Linked DNA regions of Homo sapiens: region 2 is linked to region 1. Evidence: fine-mapped QTL for protein levels in blood plasma. A gene starts in region 1. The other region holds a variant in brackets. All regions are shown on one strand. Distances are between the middles of the regions.

Region 1 (5,387 bases):
AGTTACATTATTCATATCATTAACTTGATTTTTTTTGGTAATTTATATGCATTTTCTAAGCAGGAGAGACCATATGCCAGGACATTAAACAGCTCTTTTTCTTTGTTCGTTTTTTAAAACTCTATGGGGTTTACCAGTAAAACAGAGAAAAATGCTTGGCTTTTGTGTAAATTGAACATTTAGCTTTCTTTCAGGACAAATACATTAACTCTGATTGGGGGCCATTGATGTTCACTGTGATTAAATTATGGGATTTTGTGCTTCAGCATCTAAAGTTGCTTCAGAAAAGGTGAGAAGGAGGAACAAGCAAAAAGAGAAAGCTATTCAAAAATGTCTATTTAAAAGGCAGGATTGTTTTCTATTCAAAAATTTCTGTTTAAAAGACAGGATAGTCGCTGTGGGCTAGATACCATTAGACCTGTTCACAACACAGTCAAAAGACTACCTTTTCACCTGCAGCATTTGTTTCACTGAACAGATTACTTTAAAATAGAACTGAACTTCAGACCTATTGGAAATAAAATAGCAAAGTATTAAGGCAATGCACTCAGAGAAAGATATAATGAAACAAATATATATATATATTTGCATTAAGAGTCTCCGCTCTGCATTCCCTACACTTTGGAAAGAGTTTGACAATAAAAGACAGGTGAGATTACCCAAAGGCTATAGGAAAAACTAGCAATTACCACCACCTGCTAATGCATCCAGCGTGATCTAAACATGTGAAATACCATTTGCTTCACATACAGGACTACTGACTAAGAAACTAAGTTAACAGAAGTCTTTGGCCAGAAAACCCACTGTCCCAGGTGGCCATGGCTGAGCTACTCAGCTTTTCCCAGCAGGACAATAAGCTCATCCCTACTAACACAACTGTCCTTTCAAAGCTGCTCAGTTTAGGTTCTAATCTGCACAATAACCATGTGCCTATAAGAACTGTTAAATATTATACACAGAATGGCCTTCTGTTAGAGATCTTTAAAACATATTCTCTTCTTTGCAAAATGACACTGATAGTACCGCATTGCTTTTCATATTTGTTCAATATCACAGGGTATTCTGGGTATCCAGTAAAATGAATTCCTACAGAGTAATCACATTAATAAGATATGCTACTTATTATAAATATTTCATCTTTTTCAAGCCCAGCATTCTCTTCTGGTAAAATTTAATAACCATAGTTTTCACATACCACAAGCATTGCAGAAGTTTCAAAGCTAAAGTGAAATAGATGATTATTCCAGTTTTTGTTGTAATAAGTGTGTTAACTATTTTTAAAGAAATTTATCCCTATCAAAATCAACACTTTCATGAAAGGAAAAGATAATGGCTTTTTGACCCTGTATTAGATATCGAACATTAAATCTTTGGACGCTAGAGACTATAGAGCTTTTTCATTCAATTTAATTATAGTATCCTTAAAAAGCAAATGTACTTTTGGAACTCTAGAGATGTTCACAGTCTAAAATCACTGTGGGCTGGATTTCTATTGTTTAAATATTTCCTATTATTTATGCATGTGTTGACTGTCATCTACTTAAGTGTCCAAAGTTAGAAAATTTCCTTTCTCTAGAAGACTAAATCACAACATAAGAGTGAATGGCAAGAATTTAAAGAATAACTGTGATGCATAATTTGTATTGAACTGTTGAGAGCTAACCACAAATATTAAAATGGGCTCTGTATTTAGAGCAACTAATTATAATACTGGGAAGCAAACTGGTTTTCTTTAAAACCATCTGCACTTTATGAGCTGAAGTGACAAGCAAACCTTACAGAAAATGAAGAATCAAACTTACATTTCATTTTAATCTGGGAAAGTCACCTGGGCTTTGTTTGCAAGGAAAGACTAAATTTATCAATTATTGAGGGTAAATGAAATAGTCTCTACACTAAAAGGAAAGTTTGGTTACACAGGCCTGAAAGAAGGTGTGTAGATTAGGAACGGAATCAAGAATTTTACAGCCTTGATTTGTAAGACAGAGTAAGTTTTCTTCATCCTTTTCCATTTCAGAATTAGAAACAACCCTATATCCCTACTTTATTTGCCATCAGATGCACAATCAAATAATGTTTCTATTCACGTAGACTTGAAAGGATCTTCATCCTGTGTGGGTTATTTTATTTTATAGTAGCCAAGGGAAAGAGGTTGCTGCCAATATGATGCTAAGGGCATGCAGAATAAAGACAGTCCTGGGCAACTAAACAGTCCACCTTTGTGCTGCGCTTGTGGAAGAAAAAAGCAAACCCATCACAACTTTGGGACTTGATCAACAGTGGGGAGTCACAAAACTCTTCTCAATCTCTGCATTTTAAATCTCCACCAAAAATAGCTCCTCTGTAATGGGGCTTAAAGTCCCATCCATGGCCAGTGATGGAGTACAGTACTTAATTGTTTCTGACTAGGGTCTCTGCATCAGCACTCTGAGAGTGTCTTCTAACTTTTAATCGCCTTCTGTGCTCTTTAATTAGACCTGTTCACAAGACAGTCAAAAGAAAACGCCTATCACTAAGCTTATCCAAGACGTTGAAACATGCCATTTCAGGAGTCCAGGAACTTTTGTACAAGTCTTAGCATCTTCCAGGATTAATCTGTTTTCTCTGGTTTCCTCTTCCTTAAATCAGGCACACTTGGGGGAAGGGAGAAGCTCTATGGTTATTAAGACAACTCCAATGTAAAGACACTGCCTGGTGGCAATTCCCTCCTTGCCTATTTCCGTTCTTTATTTTGTTCTTTTACCGCGTGTTACCTTTTGGCTACTAATAGGACCGGAGGGTAAAATGTCTTTTCTCTCCTTCGGAAGAGAAAGCTTTTGATCCCTCACTGAGAGCAATCCTAAGACTTTCTCCAGGGGGCTGGGATAACTAGGAAAGGGCTCTGCTCTCTCAGAAGGATTTCAGAGCCCAAACCATACAGCGTCCCTCTTGCTTAGGCGGGAGATGCAAACAGCTGAAGTGCCTTGGCCCCCACTGGTGACCCACAGTAGGACCAACCTCGCCCCGGCAGCGCCCCTGGCCTCAGGTCACTCACGCTCCTGGACTCACCTGGTGCTGAGGACCAGCGCAGGCAGGAGAGGCAGCAGGTAGTGCGCTGGGCTGAATTTCATGCTGCTGCCTGCCGGGGTCCTCCTTCCCTCGCTGCCTTCTCTCTCTCTCTTCGGGATCCTGTCGCTCCTTGGTGCCCGGCTCTGTCCCCAGCCAGTGATGAGCGCTCTTCCGAGGCGGAAAGGCGGAGACGGGCACACGAACGGACGCCTGGGGAAGGCAGGCGCTGGGAGCGAGGAGTATCTTCAGGAGTGATGTCACCGGCGAGGCGAGCCCTGCCGGGGATTGTTCGGCGCCGCCGCTCCGGAGCCCGGAGGGCGCGCCGTCACTCGCGCTGGAGGCGGCGCGGGGAGAGGGAGGGGGCGCCTCGCGATCGCCCCGTGCGCTTCGGTCACCGGGCTGCGCTCTGGTCAGTCGGGTGAGCACTGGCCAGGGGCGGATCATTTATTCCCGCTGCTCCCCAGGATGGCGCGGGGCGGGGCACGGAGAGTAGAAACCTAATCTGCCGATAATTGAACTTGCGTACTCGGCAGGAGATGAGACCCAATTCACTGGGAGAGACTTCCAGACGCGTAGGGTCCTAGGCAGGTGTCTCTCGCCGCTTAAACCGTGTTTGGAAGAACGTCGCTCTGGAGAGAGTGTTTAGAAGATTGTTCTAATTAGAACTGCATAATGATTTGCCTGAAACAGATGGAAGGAAGCGGGAGTAAGCAGCGTCCAGAAATGCAACCTCAGCCCGTCATGGCATTGCAATCTTCTTAACCCGTGAATGTTGACTGCAAAGAACCAAAGAACGTTTCGGGACCGTTAAGACATCTGCTGCTCTGGGTTTTGAAGATTTCTGATCTTCCTCTGATTTCAGTCGTCTGTACCAGCACCTGCCAATGGGGTTGGACCTGGTGGCTCAAGTTCACACACCTGAAGGAGTCCTTTTCCTCAGGTGAAACTCATCAAGGAGACCTAGCGGACAAAAACCATTAAAATGTTAACAGTAATCAGCTCGGAATGATGGTACTGGAAGGTAGAGGTTTTGTAGGTCATTTGGTTTTCTATATTTTCAAATGTTCTATCATAAGCATCCAATATTTAATAGGCTCTATTTAGAAATTTTAATTAGAAAAATTAAATAGCACAATTATAATCCAAAACACCATTTTGCAAAAGCAATTCTGAGAAACAGAACTACTATCTCTGCTACTGAGATATTCAATTCTAGGATATTTATAAGATGATATTGCATGTGTGTGTGTGTGTGTGTGTGTGTGTGTGTGTGTGTGAGTGAGAGTGAGAGAGAGAGAGAGAGAGAGAATGAGAATTCCATCTGGATATTATCCTGGTTATATAACTGTGTATAAGGCACTTCTTCATACAGTATTTAATTTAATCTTCACAAGAGCCATCCTAGTGAAATAGACGTTAATATCACTATTATAGATATGAGCAGACTGAATATCATCAAAATCTGACTATGCATATTAAAAAAAAGAACTGGTTCTACTAAGTCCTAAGAAAAATTCCACTGTTGCCTCAAACATCACAACTAGCACTCCTAGCCCAGTGTTTGACACAAAGTTGTGTTCAGTAAAGGGTGAGGTGCACCAAAGTCCCGAAAGATAATGGACAGCTGTGTCCAGGAATTCCTATCTAGAGGTTTCAGTTCATGTTCCAATTATTTCGGGGGCAAGCTCTTTACAGAAAAATTTAGATGATACATCCTCTTCAATCTCATTTTCGAAGACATTTGTAGGAAAAATGCATTTGCTGTAAAGCTTTATTTTAAAGAGGATGCAAATCTAAAAGGTTAACCATCTAATTTACTATTTTTTTTAAATGGGATTGAAGGTTAAGACATGTATGTAAAACAGATTTGCTTCAAAATCTTGAGCTGCTGAACTAGATGAGTAATAAGTTTTGAAAAGTGAATATTAGCCCCTTGGGCAATAATAATAAGATCCACAACATTATCGATCTTGTATATGCCTAATAAGTAGGCATATACAAATAAACTAACATGTGAATTGCATATCATTTAAGAGAAAAAAACGACACCACACTTTTCTAAAACAGAACTCTGATTCCAAGTAAAATAAAAACTCTGGTTTGCTCCTGCCAGGGTTTTCTAACATAGATTCCCTGCTCACTTTGAAGGAGATTACTTGAGTTGTATACTCAACAAAGACATAAGGCTACTTGGCAATTTTTTTAATGTGTGCACCAGGAAATAACACTCATATTTGTAGAATACATTTTTTATATAACAACTTTGCATCCATTATCTTACGTCCTAATCATAGAAACCAAATGTGGTAGTTATTTCTAGTATTTTTCTCTTTTCCAGT
Region 2 (5,387 bases), 560 kb before region 1:
ATGTTTTATAATTCCAAGTTTGATTCTTAGGCCACAGAATATTTTGAGACTTTGAGTATTAAAACTTCAGAGCTGCTTCTTAAAAGGAGCTAATAAGGATATCTATGATATGGTTGAATGTGACATATTTAATATCTATATATTTATATAATAATCATAATAAACCTGCAATAAATGAACAACAAAATTTCTCAAAGTGCAGTGGCACGATCTCAGCTGACTGCAACCTCTGCCTCCCAGGTTCAAGTGATTGTCCTGCCTCAGCCTCTCCAGTAGCTGGGATTACAGGCGCCTGCCACCACGCCCAGCTAATTTTTTGTATTTTTAGTAGAGATGGGGTTTCACCATGTTAGCCAGGATGGTCTCGATCTCCTGACCTCGTGATCTGCCCACCTTGGGCTCCCAAAGCGCCGGGATTACAGGCATGAGCCACGGCGCCCGGCAATTTCTCAAAGTGTTTAACATGAAATATTGACAGAAGAAAATCTACGTGGGATTATTACAATAATACACATTCCTGGGCTCTTTACCTGACCAACGGATTAATAATACATGGGAATGGATCTTGAGCATAAGCAGTTTTACCAGTTGACTTGGTGATTCTTAGTATGCTAAAATTTGAAAAATCTTCATCTACCTTATATTGATAAAGGGATCTGAATACAAAGTCCCTTCCCAGAGCGACAATGTTAGGAAACAGCAAAGTCAATATACACATCTAGGTTTTATGTAATTCCCATGCTTTCTCTTCTGTTACTCAGTCTCAGGTATGACCAACAGGAATCAAAATGCATAATCTTTCTTATCTATTTACTGAGAGACTGCATGGGGTCCTATCAGCTGTCAGGGTGGTGAGGTTGCTGATAATTATAGAATCCTGAAATTGAAAGAGATGCTAACATGATCAGTCTGTCCTCCACACAAATGCCTCAATTCCTGACTATATTCCAGAATGGCTGTTTTTCATTATTCTATTATATATTATAGTACTTCCGCCAACTGCTAATTCTAGTTTCAGATACTTTTCATTAAGAGTTCATTTTTATATTTGACTAAAATATTATTCTTCCTATAGCTGTTTCTACTAGCTGCATCTGGTTCTGCTGTGTAAAGTAGCACTGAATAAGGCTACTCACTATAAATACATTACAAATACAATTACAGTATTTAAGGTTGCTTTGCTCATATTTTAAGTTTTTTCATTTGATAAATTAATTAAAGTATATAATTCAAAATACTTATTGAGGTTTTTTGTGAGAGGCATAGCTTTCATAAGGGAATGGAAAGTAGTAATTATTGAGAGCTTGCTGTGCTAGTCATATGCTAACTGTTAAGCTGGGCTATCTCACTGGATCCTTTGGATGAGTTATATTAAGCAACAGATATTTATCTCTCTTTTTCAGAGGAGAAAAAACAGTCTTAAAAGGGTTAAATATTCATGATTACACAGCTGGAAACTGGTTGAAACATAAATTAACACAAACCTTCAATTCTAACTTTTTTCTTCAGCCTTCTATCTCAAGCATTAGAAAACACTTTCCATTCGTCATTGTTGAACCTCAGAGTGTTATTTCTAAAATGAGGCAGAATTTATCGGTCTAGACTGATAAGCGAAATTAGATAAGAGATGTGTCTCCTTTATTCTGGATGTAGCATCGTAACTGCTTAAAATCAACACTGCAACTACCTATAGGTGGTGTGCAAATCTCATCACAGTTTTAACTCAGAGCTCACAGTCAGTTAAAACTCCTCAATCTGATAGATCAATATACAAAAATTACTTGCATTTATATATATAGCAATTAACAATCTGGAAATGCAATTAAAATACTACATTTGCAATACTATGAAAAAGAGAAAAGTACTTAAGAAAAATAAAGACAAAAGAAATGCAAGACTTGTACCCTGAAAAACTATCAAACATTGCTGAAAGAAATTTTAAAAGATTAAAGTAGGCCAGGCACAGTGGCTTACGCCTGTAATCCCAGCACTTTGGGAGGCTAAGGCGGGTGGATCACAAGGTCAAGAGATCGAGACCATCCTGGCCAGCATGGTGAAAGCCCGTCTCTACTAAAAATACAAAAATTAGCTGGTCATGGTGGCAGGCACCTGTAGTCCCAGCTACTCAGGAGGCTGAGGCAGGA[G/C]AATCGCTTGAACCCAGGAGGCAGAGGTTGCAGTGAGCCGAGATCGCGCCAGGGCACTCCAGCCTGGTGACACAGCGAGACTCCGCCTCGAAAAAAAAAAAAAAAAAGAAAAGAAAAAAAGATTTAAGAAAATGGAGAGACATTCCATGTTTATGGATTGAAAAAAAAACAGTATTATTAAGACAATGTTTTGGTCTTATTATTTGCAAAGAAATGTAAGGGACTCAGAATAGCCAATACAATCTTGAAAAGGAACAACAAAGTCACAGTACTTTAAATTGTAGACTTCAAAACTGATTGTAAAGCTACAGTAACCAAGGATACCTGTATAAAAACATCTCATGTTTTTATCTCATCCCATAAATATATACACCTACTATGGTAACCACTAAAATTAAAAATAAAAATCAAAACAAGAAAATACGGTATTAGCATAAGGATAAATCAATTAAAAAATTGAAAGATGAGAAATGAACTCATGTTTGTGTCAGTTATTTTTTGACAAAGATACTAAAGAAGTTCAATTAAAAAAAGATATTCTTTAAAAATGTGTTATAAAGACTAGGACAACTGAATAACAACATGCAAATAATAAATGCAAAACCTTACCTAACACCATCCACAGACACACACAAAAAATTGAAGAATATTGATCTAAATGTAAGAAATAAAAGCACACACGTTATATGAGAAACCATAAGAAAAAAAATCAGTGTGCTTAAACAGGTGAATAATTCTTTAGATATATCAAAAGCATGAAGAATAAAATGATGAGTTGAACTTTATTGAAAATAAAAGCTTGTGTGTTTCAGAAGACACAAATTAGGACTTCAGGTTCTGCTCTGACACATAAAGGTCTTGGAAGTCTCCACTTCCACCTTCACAACAAGCAAAAAGCTGAACAGACTGATAATCAATAATTTTTCTTAGATGTATCAAAGAATTAATGTTACAGAAAAACTACCACCCCAAAAACTGGTGAGACCGTGAATACAGAGAACACAGACAAGCTACCTAAGTGAAAGCTGCTGGAGCCAGTAGTTGATGGGAATATTTATGTAATATCTTTAATAAATTTCTGGAGGCCGAATATGGACTAGCATGAAATACAAAAACTCCAAGAGGCTTAGTTTAAGGTAAGGTGAGCCCTCATTACTGAGAATTTTACCTTTCTGAGAACCATGAGGTTTTAATGGTGAAGATGGGAGAATAGAGAAGCACCACTCATGTTTGTTCAAAGGGGGAAAGAATGTACCAATTTTTCAATATAAGCATAAACTTATCATCAAACCCAGCAATTCTACATCTTGGTGCCTACTCAACAGAGATTAAAACATTGCCATACAAAGTGGTTTATGCAAACGTTCATAGCATCATTTTTTCATAATAGCTACAAATTAAAAATAATCCAAAAGACAGCAATTGGTGAATGGATAAAGAAATGTGGTACACCACACAATAAAATGGTTTTCAGCAATAAAAAGGTACAAACAAATACAAAAAGAAACCATGTTTTTGGTTGCCTGAGGCTTAGTGTGGGGATGAGGACTCATTGTATTAAAAAAAAAAAAAAAAAGGCATGTGGGATCATATTAGGGAGATGAAAATGTTCTGAAACTGGATTACAGTCCTGGACTCAGCAAATGGGATGAATGATTGAAACATACACTTATATGGGTGAATTTTTATGGTATGTAAGTTATATCTCAATAAAGCTTTTTTAAAATTATATATTTCAAAAATAATTAGCTTCATTGTGCCTTTCACCCATTCTAATTATTAACAGAGTACCAATCTCTTCTGTTCAGAAGTAAATAGAAAAAAGTTAACCAAAAATATCTCCTACTCTAGTTTTCTTTCTTGATAATGATGATGTAATTATTTAAGCCAATAAAACATACATTTGGGGCTCATGTTACACTTCATCTTTATACCTACATCTTCATTTGATCACAGAATCCTGGGGCTCTCTCTTTGAAACAGACTTTTCATTGTTTGTTCCCAATTGTTTCTGTGATTGCCTAGATTCAGGTTCCTATTTACTCTCTCTTTAATTATTTTTAAAATTTGCTGATTCAGTGGTTTTTGGATTTCTGAATTCATTACAACTGAAAATCAAGTTAAAACAAGAAATAGGAATAAAGTTACTATCAATTTTATTAAGGACATTAAAAACAAAGTAAAACTACATTATATCCTACTTTTTGTCCTTGTTAAAAACTAAATAGCATTCATTCAATATCTGATTAAAGGAAAGTCATATAAAGGCATAGGTTAAGATCCTAAAACACACCCCAAAATAGACAAAATATAAAGGTAGAAATGTGATAAAGAATTTTATTTTGTGATTTAAAAAAATGAAATTAAGTTCTGCCTTCTTATTCAGTTTGGACACTCAATAAAGCAACCCAAATTGCAGCTTAAGTCTCTAGACTGGTAGTCAGTATTTTGATACTGCTACATTAAAATGGAAGCAATACATTTCACAATATTTAATGCAAATCAGAATATTATGGCTAAATTTATACAAGGCAAAAAACAGTCTCTCTAGTTTTATTTATTAAAAATTTCCAGATGAATTGCTCAGAATCTGACTTTCTAAAAGCTCCCCAGAGGGTTCTTATGAATGGGAAATCTATTATTAGTGAAAAATGACCTACATATTTGAATCATCTGGATGAATCAAAAAATTAACACAACTAATGTCTAGACCTTACCTACTGAGGTGCTGAGGTAATTTTTCTGCAATGGGTTGTGGGCATCAGTATTTTGTAAGTACTCTTCGGTTGACACTATTCTGGAGACAGAGCTAAGAAGTACTGGTCTAGAACTTGAAAACTGATGTTCATGCATGTCCCACTAATTCCGATTACTCACACCTGGTTTATGTCACTCATTGTATTACTTTCTTCATTATTATCTATAATTGAATCTGCAGGCTCTGAATACTGAGCACTCTATGTACTAAAAGGTGTAGCTTCTTAGGAGTAGAGACTCCAATACAAAAGTCTAGAGGACAGAAGTCAGGTTAGTGAAATAACATTTATATTTGTTCTGGTGGAGGCAGCTTTTTGAAGAGCCCCAGGTCCAGACTGAGACCAGAAACAGATAGTATCTGCTTCTGGAACTCACTGAGGACAGAAGAGTTATCCCTGACAAAGGAGAACAACACAAGTAGAAGAGAGAAACAAATAACATATGAACAAATCAATTTATGATTTGAAGGAGGCTTCAATAAGAAAA

Alleles and levels. Positions count from the first base shown, and alleles are read on the strand shown. Strength reflects both the effect of a copy and how common the allele is.
For the plasma level of the protein whose gene starts at base 3,301 in region 1, G is the high allele of the variant in region 2 and C is the other (moderate association).

What was found. A credible set is the group of variants that fine-mapping cannot tell apart. PIP is the posterior inclusion probability: the model's chance that the variant is causal. Protein levels are from antibody-based Olink assays in UK Biobank. Linkage for the fine-mapping came from a reference panel and not from the study's own genotypes, which makes the PIPs less certain.
Region 2: its variant is the best candidate, but not a certain one, in a credible set for the plasma level of the LUZP2 protein (UK Biobank, PIP 0.69).

Annotation. Positions count from the first base shown.
Region 1 is chr11:24,494,967-24,500,353 of GRCh38, reverse strand. LUZP2 (leucine zipper protein 2) reads right to left here and starts at 3,301. Exons shown (of 12, transcript NM_001009909.4): 1 at 3,049-3,301. The coding sequence starts at 3,110.
Region 2 is chr11:25,051,876-25,057,262 of GRCh38, reverse strand. All of the region lies in intron 10 of LUZP2 (leucine zipper protein 2), which reads right to left. Among named protein-coding and RNA genes, the nearest start is that of LINC02699, 400 kb to the left of the region's middle. The variant G/C (reference allele first, on the strand shown) is at 2,145.